Homo sapiens: one gene and its partners. The gene in region 3 interacts genetically with the main gene of each other region. Each region holds a gene or a part of one and is shown on either strand. Other genes may lie near its edges. The genes, in order: PMVK, ALS2CL and NF2.

The links.
Region 1: changes in NF2 (region 3) and PMVK together harm fitness more than expected from each alone (negative genetic interaction), as found in Homo sapiens cells (one large-scale study listed by BioGRID).
Region 2: changes in NF2 (region 3) and ALS2CL together harm fitness more than expected from each alone (negative genetic interaction), as found in Homo sapiens cells (one large-scale study listed by BioGRID).

Annotation. Positions count from the first base shown.
Region 1 is NC_000001.11:154,930,073-154,933,719, forward strand, and holds part of PMVK (phosphomevalonate kinase), read right to left. Parts: intron 2,344-3,647; coding exon 2,280-2,343; intron 1-2,279. UniProt on the Homo sapiens protein: Catalyzes the reversible ATP-dependent phosphorylation of mevalonate 5-phosphate to produce mevalonate diphosphate and ADP, a key step in the mevalonic acid mediated biosynthesis of isopentenyl diphosphate and other polyisoprenoid metabolites.
Region 2 is NC_000003.12:46,683,673-46,687,319, reverse strand, and holds part of ALS2CL (ALS2 C-terminal-like protein), read left to right. Parts: intron 1-171; coding exon 172-337; intron 338-880; coding exon 881-1,012; intron 1,013-1,675; coding exon 1,676-1,795; intron 1,796-3,272; coding exon 3,273-3,331; intron 3,332-3,471; coding exon 3,472-3,538; intron 3,539-3,647. UniProt on the Homo sapiens protein: Acts as a guanine nucleotide exchange factor (GEF) for Rab5 GTPase. Regulates the ALS2-mediated endosome dynamics.
Region 3 is NC_000022.11:29,676,486-29,680,132, reverse strand, and holds part of NF2 (merlin), read right to left. Parts: intron 1,938-3,647; coding exon 1,810-1,937; intron 1-1,809. UniProt on the Homo sapiens protein: Probable regulator of the Hippo/SWH (Sav/Wts/Hpo) signaling pathway, a signaling pathway that plays a pivotal role in tumor suppression by restricting proliferation and promoting apoptosis.

The DNA of each region.
Region 1 (3,647 bases), on a different chromosome or scaffold from region 3:
TTTGTTTTTTAATGGGAGTGGGGGATAGAGTGGTGCTGGACTTGCACAGAGCAAGGGCAGTCTGGCCTATCAGAGTCTTCCATGGAGCTTTTAAAAATGCAAACTGGCCAGGCACAGTGGCTCACGCCTGTAATCCCAGCACTTTGGGAGGCCGAGGCGGGCAGATCACAAGGTCAGGAGTTCAAGACCAGCCTGACCAATATGGTGAAACCATGTCTCTACTAAAAATACAAAACAATTACCCGGGCGTGGTCACCCATGGCTGCAATCCCAGCTACTCAGGAGGCTAAGGCAGTAGAACTGCTTGAACCCCAGGAGGTGGAGGTTGCAGTGAGCCAAGATCGTGCCACTGCACTCTAGGCTGGGCGACAGAGCGAGACTCCGTCTCAAATATAAATAAAATAAATAAATAAATAAAAATGCAAACTCCTGCTCCTTCTTCCTCCCGCCCCCCACCCAACCCCACCAGTCTCACTCAGTAGGACAGAAGCAAGACCTGTCTGGGAACTTTGGAAGATCAGTTTTGAAAGTGCTCCTGGGAGGCCTTTGGAAGTGCCTAGGCCCCACTAGGGAAGGCTCAGTGCCTTCCCCTTCACCCCTTCCTTCCTCCCATCCCCCCACCACCACCCCACCACCCTGCAGCATCGCTCCCAGTCTGTCTCCTGGATACAAAGAAATTCTGTATCCAGTTTCATTTGGGAAAGAATCCTGCTTAAAATTTTTGAAAACCAGGCCAGGTAAAGTAGCTCCTGCCCAAATCCTAGCACTTTGGGAGGCCATAGTGGGAGGATCACTTGAGCCCAGGAGTTGGAGACCAGCCTGGGCAACATAATGAGACTCCCATCTCTACAAAAAAAAATTTTAAACTTAGCCAGGCATAGTGGCATGCACCTGTATTCCTAGCTACTTGGGAAGCTCAAGTGGGAGGATCACTTGAGCCCAGGAGGTCAAGGCTGCAGTGAGCCATTATGCGCCACTGCACTCCAGCCTGCGCTACAGAGCAAGACCTTGTCTCAAAAAGAAAAAAAAATAAACCACTTAATTTAGTTATTCTTACAATTCCTCAGGCTGCCACCCTATGAATAGGTCTGTTCAGCTGGTGAGAGATGACCCAATGCTTCCCATGGAGGCAAAGATGGCATATAGAAGGGGGGACAATTCATTTTATGTGGTTCCGGAAACCACACTCTGGCCAATTGAGGGGCCAAAGCACACGTCCCAGAAGGGTGCACCTAGAGGTCAAGGGCAAAATGTGGCGACAAGAGGGCTCTTCACCATGTGGGAGGCTGATCTTGCCTTCCAAGTTCCCTTTCTGAAGTCTAAGATTCTGAGAGTTCCTGTTGACTTATTTTTTTTATTCTATTTTAACGATTCTATTTTTTTTAATCCATGTGGTTCAAAATTCAAAGATACACATTAATTTACAGTCGAAAATCTCTCTCTCACCCTGTCCCCTCCCTGGGGGCAACCAATGGTACGGTTTCTAACCTGTCTTTCCCATGCAGTGCAGGAACACATCCCAGGCACCTGAAACAGTGCTGAACATGAGACAGGCACCCTGTAAATATTTGTTAAATAGCCAAATATATGAGCAGATATATTTAGAATTCTTTTACAATTCTTGGTCACAAAGTGCCTCTTCAGTTTTAGACAAATGTAGCATTCTCTACACACTGTTCTATATCTTGGTATTGGCTTTTTTTTTTTTTCACTTAATGATATATTTTGACAACTTCTGGGACTAAATTTCTTTTTTGTGTGTTGTTGTTTACTTTAAAAAAAATTTTTTTTAAAGAAACGGAGATGGGGTTTCACCATGTTGGCCAGGCTGGTCTCTAACTCCTGGACTCAAGCAATCTACCTGCCTCGGCCTCCCAAAGTGCTGGGATTACAGGCATGTGCCACCGTGCTCGGCCTGTACTAAATTTCTAGGAGCAAAGTTCTAGGGGCTGTGTCAGGCCAGCTGAGTGAGAGGGTGGTGTGAGGAGGCACAGGCAGGTCCTTACTAATCACACAGCATCAGAGCTGCCAACTCGAGTGTCGACAGCCTTTCCTGGGCACACCTTCCTGAACTCACTCTGAAGGGAGGGAGGCTATTAGGAAAGAAATATAAGCTGAAAATGCCCCCGAAAGGTCCACTCACAGAAAACCAAGAGCTGGCCACCACCCTGCCAGCAGTGGTGACGGGAATCATGCCAGTGACTCAGGCAGCAGCCACAGCTCCAAAGTCCTGGAGCCGGCCCCGCCCAACACACCGGATGCCACAAAGCACCACCTACCTGAGCATACTGTTCCTTGAGTGGACCAGAGAGCCGGAGGACAGCACAGACATCAGCTCCAAGTCTGCAGGACAGGGAGATCAGAATCCAGTTAGCCTAGAATTTCCAGGAGCTTCCATGTCCCAGAAAGGGAGTCAAGAGGCCTGTGTTGAAGTCCCATTTCTACTACTGGTATTATGTAACTTTGGTAGGTCTCAATGTCCCTGATCCTGTTTCCTCATCAGAAAATGGGGATAACACTTTCTGTTCTGTCTCCCACACAGGATTATTATGAAACTCTAAAGAATATAAAAGAGCCCTGAAACTAACAGGTAAAACCTATAAAGTGCTAATTACAGTGTGAACAGGCGCACAATATTCTAGCTGGATTAGGTTATTGCCCAGACCCTAAACTAATTCTCTCATAGCCAGAGGTATCTGTCTCCACTGACTTGGTCACCATAACATATATCATTTATTAATTCACTGGTTGGGCATGGTGGCTCACACCTGTAATCCCAATACTTTGGGAGGCCAAGGCAGGAGGAGTGCTTGAGGCCAGGAGTTCAAGACCAGCCTGGGCAACACAATAAGACCCAGAGATACCATCTCCACCAAAAAATTTAAAAATTAGCTGAGCATGGCAGCATGTGCCTGTACTCCCAGCTACTCCAGAGGCTGAGGTGGGAGCATTCCTGAGCCCAGGAGTTCCAGGCTACAGTGAGCCATGATTGTACCACTGTATGCCAGCCTGGGAGACAGAGTGAGACCCTGTCTCATAAAAATGAAATAAGAAAAGCAAATTTAAAAAACTGAAACAAAAGCCAGGTGTGGTGGCTCACGCCTGTAATCCCAGTACTTTGGAAGGCTGAGGCAGCAGATCACCTGAGGTCAGGAGTTTGAGACCAGCCTGACCAACACGGTGAAACCCTGTCTCTACTAAAAGCATAAAATTAGCCGGACATGATGGCGCATGCCTGTAATCCCAGCTACTCGGGAGGCTGAGGCAGGAGAATCACCTGAACCCAGGAGGTGGAAGTTGCAGTGAGCCGAGATCGCCCCATTGCACTCCAGCCTGGGCAACAAGAGTGAAAATCCATCTCAAAAATGAAAATAAAAATAAAAATAACTCATTCGTTATTTAATTTACTTAACCAACCTTTTTTTTTTTTTTTTTTTTTGAGACGGAGTCTTGCTCCACCACCCAGGCTGGAGTGCAATGGCGCGATCTCGGCTCACTGCAATCTCCGCCTCCCAGGTTTGAGCGATTCTCCTGCCTCGGCCTCCCAAGTAGCTGGGATTACAGGCGCCCGCCACTACACCCGGCTAATTTTTGTATTTTTAGTACAGACGGGGTTTTGCCATGTTGGCCAGGCTGGTCTCAAACTC
Region 2 (3,647 bases), on a different chromosome or scaffold from region 3:
TCTTAAACCTGTGAGGGCAACTCAGGTACTGTGTTGATCTGATAGGGTAGAGGTTTTGGGCCTGGGGCTGGCCCTGGGATCTGAGGGGATTAGCTGGGGCAGGGAGGTGGCGGTGTGGGTGCAGGAATGGAGGAAGGGGTGAAGGTGGTGCGTGGCCCTCTCTACACGCAGCGAGTACTGGCGGGGCCAGCGGAAGGCGCTGCGGCAGCTGCTTTCAGGTGTGAGCTCAGAGGGCTCGGTGGGCGCATCGCTGGGCCAGGCCCTCCACCAGCCACTCGCCCATCACGTGCAACAGTACGTGCTCCTCCTGCTGAGCCTCGGGGACACCATTGGGGAGGTGGGTACCAGGGGCAGCAGCATGTGGGGAAGCCGAGGGAAGGGAGGGATAGGGCCCAGACTCAGGGGGCTCAGCCTATACTCAGGAACCCTAGTACAAGAAGGACTCAGCCATGCCGGCAGGTGGGAGAGGGTTGAGGAAGTCACAGGCCTGTCCTGTGGTTTTCAGGGGACATGGGGGACGTGGCCCAGCCCTGAGGAGGGGGTCCGAAGACATGGTTCTGTCCTAGGGAATCTTAGTGGGTGAAAGCACTGCCCTTCCCTGCGGTGTCTGAGGCACGTGGCCCTGCCCTGGTAGAGCCAGCAGAGACCCAGAGAGCAGGGGTAGAATCACGTCCTGGGAATGAGGACACGTGGGCCCAGGGCCAAGCTGGGGAAGCACCTTCATATTCCACCCCCTGCCCCACCAGCAGAAGAGGAGCTGTCAGGGAGAGAAGGGCAAGGTCTGGCCTAGATTCAGGCCTCCCCACCAGCCGGGACCAGGACTGGGCTAGGGAAGATTCCAGTAAGCTCTCCTCTCACTGGCTGCCCTGTCCCCCTTCAGCATCACCCAACCCGGGAGCTGGTGGTGAACGCAGTCACCCTCTTTGGGAACCTGCAGTCCTTCATGAAGCAGGAGTTGGACCAGGCTGTGGCCACACAGGCTCTCTGGCACACCCTGAGAGGCCGGCTGAGGGTGAGTTGGGGGCCTGAGGGGCAGTTAGGGAGGGGGTTCCACATTGGGCATGGAGATGTTGGGGGGCTTGAGCTGCTTGCTGTATTCTCTGGGCCTCAGTTTCCCTATATGGAAGGGGGAGTGATGGCTGAAGCAGGTGGCTGTAAGGTCCCTCTGTCCAGCCATTCTTATCTGTCTGCTGAGCACGTCCTGGGCCAGGCCCTGACCCGGCCTAGGGAAGAGGCAATCAGCAGAACCAGTCCTCTCCCCTGGGGATATCACCGATCACACCCTTGCGTCACTGCCCACCATGGCATGGACTGCCCCTGCAGGGAGGAGAGTCCCCTGTGCCCTGAGGTTTGGACCTGGTGTGGAGAATTAGGAGACTAGGTAGAGGAACGAGAATTGTGGAAGGGAGGCAGGGGTGGCCGAGTACTGGGAGAGGACTGATAGGGGCATGGCTGGGGCCGTGGCACAGAGGTGTGGGAGGGGACACTGAAGCTTCAAGAGAGCCAGGAATGTATAATCAGTGCATTTCTGCCTATCTCTGACCCAGGGTCCGCTCCAGGTCTACTGGAGGGGGCCTCTGGGAGGTGTCTGGGGTACATTGGGAGGTGGCAGAGTGGCAGGCAGCTTGCAGGACAGAGGTGCCTAAGCCTTGTACTGTCCTCTTTGCCCCACCAGGATGTGCTCTGCACCCCTGCTCACAGACTCCTTCAGGACAGCCAGGACGTACCCGTGACGGTCGCACCGTTGCGGGCTGAGCGTGTGCTGCTCTTTGATGATGCCCTCGTCCTGCTGCAGGTTGGGGTGGGGCTGACCCAAGGTCTTGAGGCCACAGTAGGGTTCTGGGGTCTGGCTGGAAAAGGAGCAGTAAAGGGGCATGCTGCTGGGACTGAGAAAGTGGGCTGGGAGGGATGGTCAGGGATAGAAAGGCGTTGTGTTGGGGAGGGGCGGTCCACTGGAGCTGTCCCCAGAGGAGCATGGGCTGAGGGGAAAGGCTGTCCAGGGTTTGTCCCGGCTTCAGCCCTTCCCAGCTGGTGTCCTTGGTTACATGTCTTCACCTTCGTTTTCCCATCGGGAATGTGGGGGTCATTGTGAGTGAGTTTGTTCTACAGTAGACACCAGACAACTCTTAGTTCCCATTGTACTCAAATGAGAGAGGAACCCCAGACAGAAAGTCATGGGTGACTGAGGGGTGACTAAGGAGGGCTGGATGAGAAGGCTTCTAGAGAAAAGTACCCTACAGGAGCAGTGCCTGGGCTTTCAGCATTGTGGAAGTCAGAAGGGAGCCAGGCCTGAGGCTGGGAATTGTTACATGGCCAGTCACCAACTGTGGTTCATCCATCCTGAAATCATGTTGTCCTGGTGAGGTCCACAGCACAGTCTTCTCTACCCCTTAGAAGGTTGGCCTGGAACCCCCTTGCAGACAGGTGGCCGGGGCCTGGCAGGAAGCTGCTGCCCAGCCTAGACCTGTGTCCCCTGAAGCCTGATTTTGGGATTGGTTCTGATTTAGTTTGAATTCCCCTCCACTCCCAACTTCACACTCCACTCCAGGTACACTGATGAGCTACTGTCCCTTCCCTGTGCTAGCCCTCTCCTGACGCTGGACCTTTGCACATGCTGTTGTGTCTGGTGGGCCATCTCTTGTCCCTGGCCTGCGGCTGGCAAGCTCCTCCTCACCCCTCAGGCCTGGGCCTCCCACGTCCTCCCCATTCTGGTATGGAGCAGTGATTGGCCTGACTGGGCCGGGTAGGAAGTTGCTACACAAAATCTTCCCATAGGAAGGGGCTTTTTTTCTGGCTGTCAGAGCAGGATGGCATTCCAGGTAGAAGGAACAGTATGAGCAAAAGTTCACAGTGAGGAGAGGTTGGGGCAAGCTCATGAAGGTGTGATTGTGGAGTGGCCCTGATGGCGTAGTGGTCTGTGAGGTCTTAAATGTTAGGCTCAGCAGTGTCTCAACCCCCAGGCAGTAGGAGCCATAGAGAGGTTTCCAGCAGGGGTTGACCAGGTCCCAGCTTCATTTGTAGACCACTCTGGTAGCCACAGGGGGCTAGAGGCTGGTTCTGAGTTCCTGGCCAAGCTCTGGGGTAGAAAGGACATGGAGGAGCTGTCCCTGAGGTGGGGAGCAAGCCAGAGGGGAGAGGGACTCAGTCCTGGACATGCTGGGCAGAATAGCCTTGGTGGCCACACAAGGTTGAGCTTGGGGCAAGCCTTGGCCAGAGGGTAGGTGAGCATCTGGCCTGGGCTCTGGATGACTCCTGTGTCCATCCTCTTCCAGGGCCACAATGTCCACACCTTTGATCTGAAGCTGGTGTGGGTGGATCCTGGGCAGGACGGGTGAGCAACCCCCTCGGCTGACACCCCAGGCCTTCTTCCCTTTACCCCCATGACACCTGCCCACACCCTGGGACTCTGGCTTGGGCCCCTCCACCCTCCTGGACAAAGCTGGGGCCTACTCATCACCTCCGTCTGTCTAGGTGCACGTTTCACCTCCTCACGCCCGAAGAAGAGTTCTCCTTTTGTGCCAAGGACTCCCAGGGCCAGGTGAGTGTGGGTGAGCTGTGAACTGCGGGAGCGGGGTCAGAGGACAGGGTAGGAAGAGGGCAGAAGTATGCAACCCTGCAGGGCCCCACAGGAGTGCCGGCGAGTGTCT
Region 3 (3,647 bases):
CTCAAAAAAAAAAAAAGTGTCAGGAGGTGGGGCCTTTGGGCAGTCATGAGGGTAGAGCCTCATGAATGGGATTAGTGCCCTTATAAAAGAGACTCCAGAGAGACCCCTCATCCCTTCCACTGGGTGAGCATGCAGCAAAAAGGGGCTGATTATGAACCAGCAAGAATGCCCTCACTAGACTCCACCTCTGCCCGTGCCTTGATCTTGGCCTTCTCAGCCTCCCAAACTGTGAGAAATCAATTTCTTTCTTTTCTTTTTTTTTTTTTTGAGACAGGGTGTCTCTCTGTTGCCCAGGCTGGAGTGCAGTGGTGCAATCTGGGCTCACTGCAACCTCTGCCTCCCAGGCTCAAGCAATCCTCCCACCTCAGCCTCCCGAGTAGCTGGGACCACAGGCATGTGCCACCACACCCAGCTAATTTTTGTATTCTTAGTAGAAATGGGGTTTTGCCATGTTGCCCAGGCTGGTCTTGAACTCCTGGCTCAAGAGATCTGCCCCCCTTGGACTCCCAAAGTGCTGGAATTACAGGCATGAGCCACTGTGCCTGGCCAAGAAATAAATTTCTGTTGTTTATAAGCTACCCAGCCTCTGGTATTTTGTTACAGTAGCCAAAACAAACTAAGATAGTAACAAAATACAAACTATAAAATAGCAGACACAGAACAGCTTCACCCTGATCCCGGATCCCAACCACATAAATGTATATGTCTGGATAATGGTGAAAGGAACATGGACAGCAGATATGACAGCTAGAGGCTCTGGTTCATTGGCTACTTAGCTATACCCTCAGTGTGAGAGCCCAAAGAAAAACAGCCTGGGTTCTGGTTGCCCATACTGGACTCCATGGAGACACTTTCCCCAAAGGGTTTTCCTGAGGATACCACCCATGGTAAAAGCACATGGGCTGCAGAGTCAGATGGGTGAGGGGTTTCAACCCCTCTGCATCAGCTGTGGGATGCTGGTGGAGTTCACTAAACTCTCTAAATCTGAGTTCTCACTTATAAAATGGGAACATGAAAACCTACCTTTGATGTCATTTTGATGTTTGTAAGTTAGCAGGAATTAAATGAGACAAAAGCCAAAACCCCTGACACACAGGCACTCAATGCATGGTAGCTACTGTGGTTGTCCTCTAGCAAGCAGCAGCAGTTAACCAACTTACCGCTAGCTCTGGGAACTAGGGGCCCTCGCTTAGATTTCCTCTGCAGTGGGGATCCTTTCCTTTCCATCTCTGATCCACTTCTACCCACAATAAAGGGAAGACGGAGGGCAGCTCAGCAATTGCTGCCATGATCAGGCCATGCTGGGGCCCTGCCCAGTGCCACCCACTGCAGCAAAGTGGCCCCACCAGCTGTCAGCTTTCCTTAGCCTCGAGCCTGAGTCTCTTCTCTCACCTTTGTTTGTTCTAGACATGGGAACCACCACAGATCCCAGTTGCTGGAGAACACAACTAGGAGGTGACTACAGTCCAGTAGTATAACAGCAGTTGAACTGACTCAGAGATGCTAACAACCCAGTCCTACACTTTAGGTGAGGCTTAGAGCCACCAAAAACTCCAGCTCACCAGTCAAGTGTTATTTTTATCCTGGATAAAAATTGTTATTTTTATTCGTTCAGAATGAATGCTGATCTGTTGTCCTTAATTTCTGATTAAGGAAATTCTTCCTCCAGGGTGTAAGAGCAGAGCAAACCTTTGCAGGAGTAATGACAGGCTGCTGCAGCGACCTCTCACCTCTGCCCCAGCTTCCCAAGGCCCCAATCACTCAGTCTAGTTCACAGCTGCCCACAGCAGGGCACAGGGGGCTACATACTTTTCTTTCTCTATCTCCATGGAAAGCCGCTTCATGTCAGTATCTTTGAAGTCGAAAGACAGGCTGTCACCAATGAGGTTGAAGCTTGGTATGTCAGGAGGCAACGGTGCTGGAATTGGGTTCATGGGCTGTTAATGAGAAATTTCGGATTAGGAGCTTGGGTCATACAAGCACAGAAGGACACTACTGTGTTGACAACCGATCCTCCAGCAGCCACAGAGGCAATGGGCACAACTCGGGTCCCACCTCCCAATGCCACCACGAGTCCCCATCCCTCCACTTCACTCCCTCCACATTTGCCACTGCCAGGTAAACAATATCAAAGACTACAAATCCAGGAAAATCATCCCTCAAATCTCTAACCGTTCTTCATGCTCAGCTGAATCAAACACAAACTCCCACTCGCTTTTTCATTTAGGAAACTCCCAGGCCCTGTGCAAGGGGCTGGAGATGCAGAAAACAAGACAGCATCCTTGGCTTTGAGCAGCTGAAAGTCTTGTTCAGGAAATAGATGTGTTCACAGATCATCACTGTTAAAAAAGGTAAACACTGTAGCCAGGGAGCGAACAGAGGCTAGAAGAGATGCTGCTTTTGCTGGGATCCAAGGCAGTGCCAGGAGAAGGTCTGCCGGACGGGAAGTATGGCAATGGGTGGGGCAGTGCCCAGTGAGGGTGCCAGGAGTCTGCCATGCAGTGTGGAGAGGTGGGGTGGGAGATGGGCACCACCACAAAGGGCTCCCCACCGGCCCACCGAGGGGCTTGGGCTTGGACAATGGAACCGGAGTAGGGCCTGAAGCAGGGGTGGTGTAGTTTTTTTTTTTTTTGGACTTTCATCCCAGCACAAAGGGTCATCTAAAGAGGACCCCAATCTAGCTTCCCGGCTTCTCCTACTATTTGCCCTACTAAGTCACAGACAGTATTGTTTATTATCCCCTGGACTACTGCCTTCCCATCTCTGTACCCCTGCCTATCCCATTTCTCCTCCCTATGCTCCATCCCTCTTTCAAGGCCCTTCTCAAACACCACGATCTCTCACCAAAGCCTTTCTAGCCCCTCCCAGCCAGCCGGCAACCCTTTTCTTTGCTGTCCCTTAACGCTGTGTTTACGGTTCTCTAATGGTTCTTCTGCGATTCCACCCTGTAAAAGATTTCTTTTTGGCTGTATCTTCTTTCTACTATTTGCAAGTTTCCTGCAAACAATCTGCCTCTTTTTCATCCTTGGATCCCGTATTGAGTCTAGGACAGTGTCTGGGAAAGAGCAGAGGCTTGGAACATTCATTTGAGACATTCTCAAGGCCTGAGGCAGACCGTCTGCAAGGGTGCTGAGAGAAGGCTCCTTGGGTGCCAGGGATGTCCTGTTTTCTGATCTGGGTGCTGGGTACATGGGTATGTTCAGTTTGTGAAAATTCTTCAAACTGTACAGTTGTAATTTGGGCACTTCTCTATGTGTATGTTACACATCATAAAAATTTTCAGCAAAAACGCGTACTAGTTGCTGCACCACTAGTGAGAGCATGAACTGGTATGACTTCTTTGGAGAGTATCAAAATCGAAAATTTGACCCCACAGTTCTATTATAAGAATTTATTCTACCAATATATCCACGTGTGTGTGTCAAGATTTGTGTTCAGGGATGTTCAGTGTCATTTTGTTCAAAATTGCAAAAGAAAACAGACTAAATACTCATCCATGAGGGACTGGTTAAATAAATTACAATCCATCCACACAACAAAACATGATTAAAAAGCTGATATGGATGATCTCCTTCAGGATTGACTGCTAAGAGGAAAGAGCAGTTACAGCAGTGTATAAGCTTTGCTCCAGTGTATATTTTAAAAAC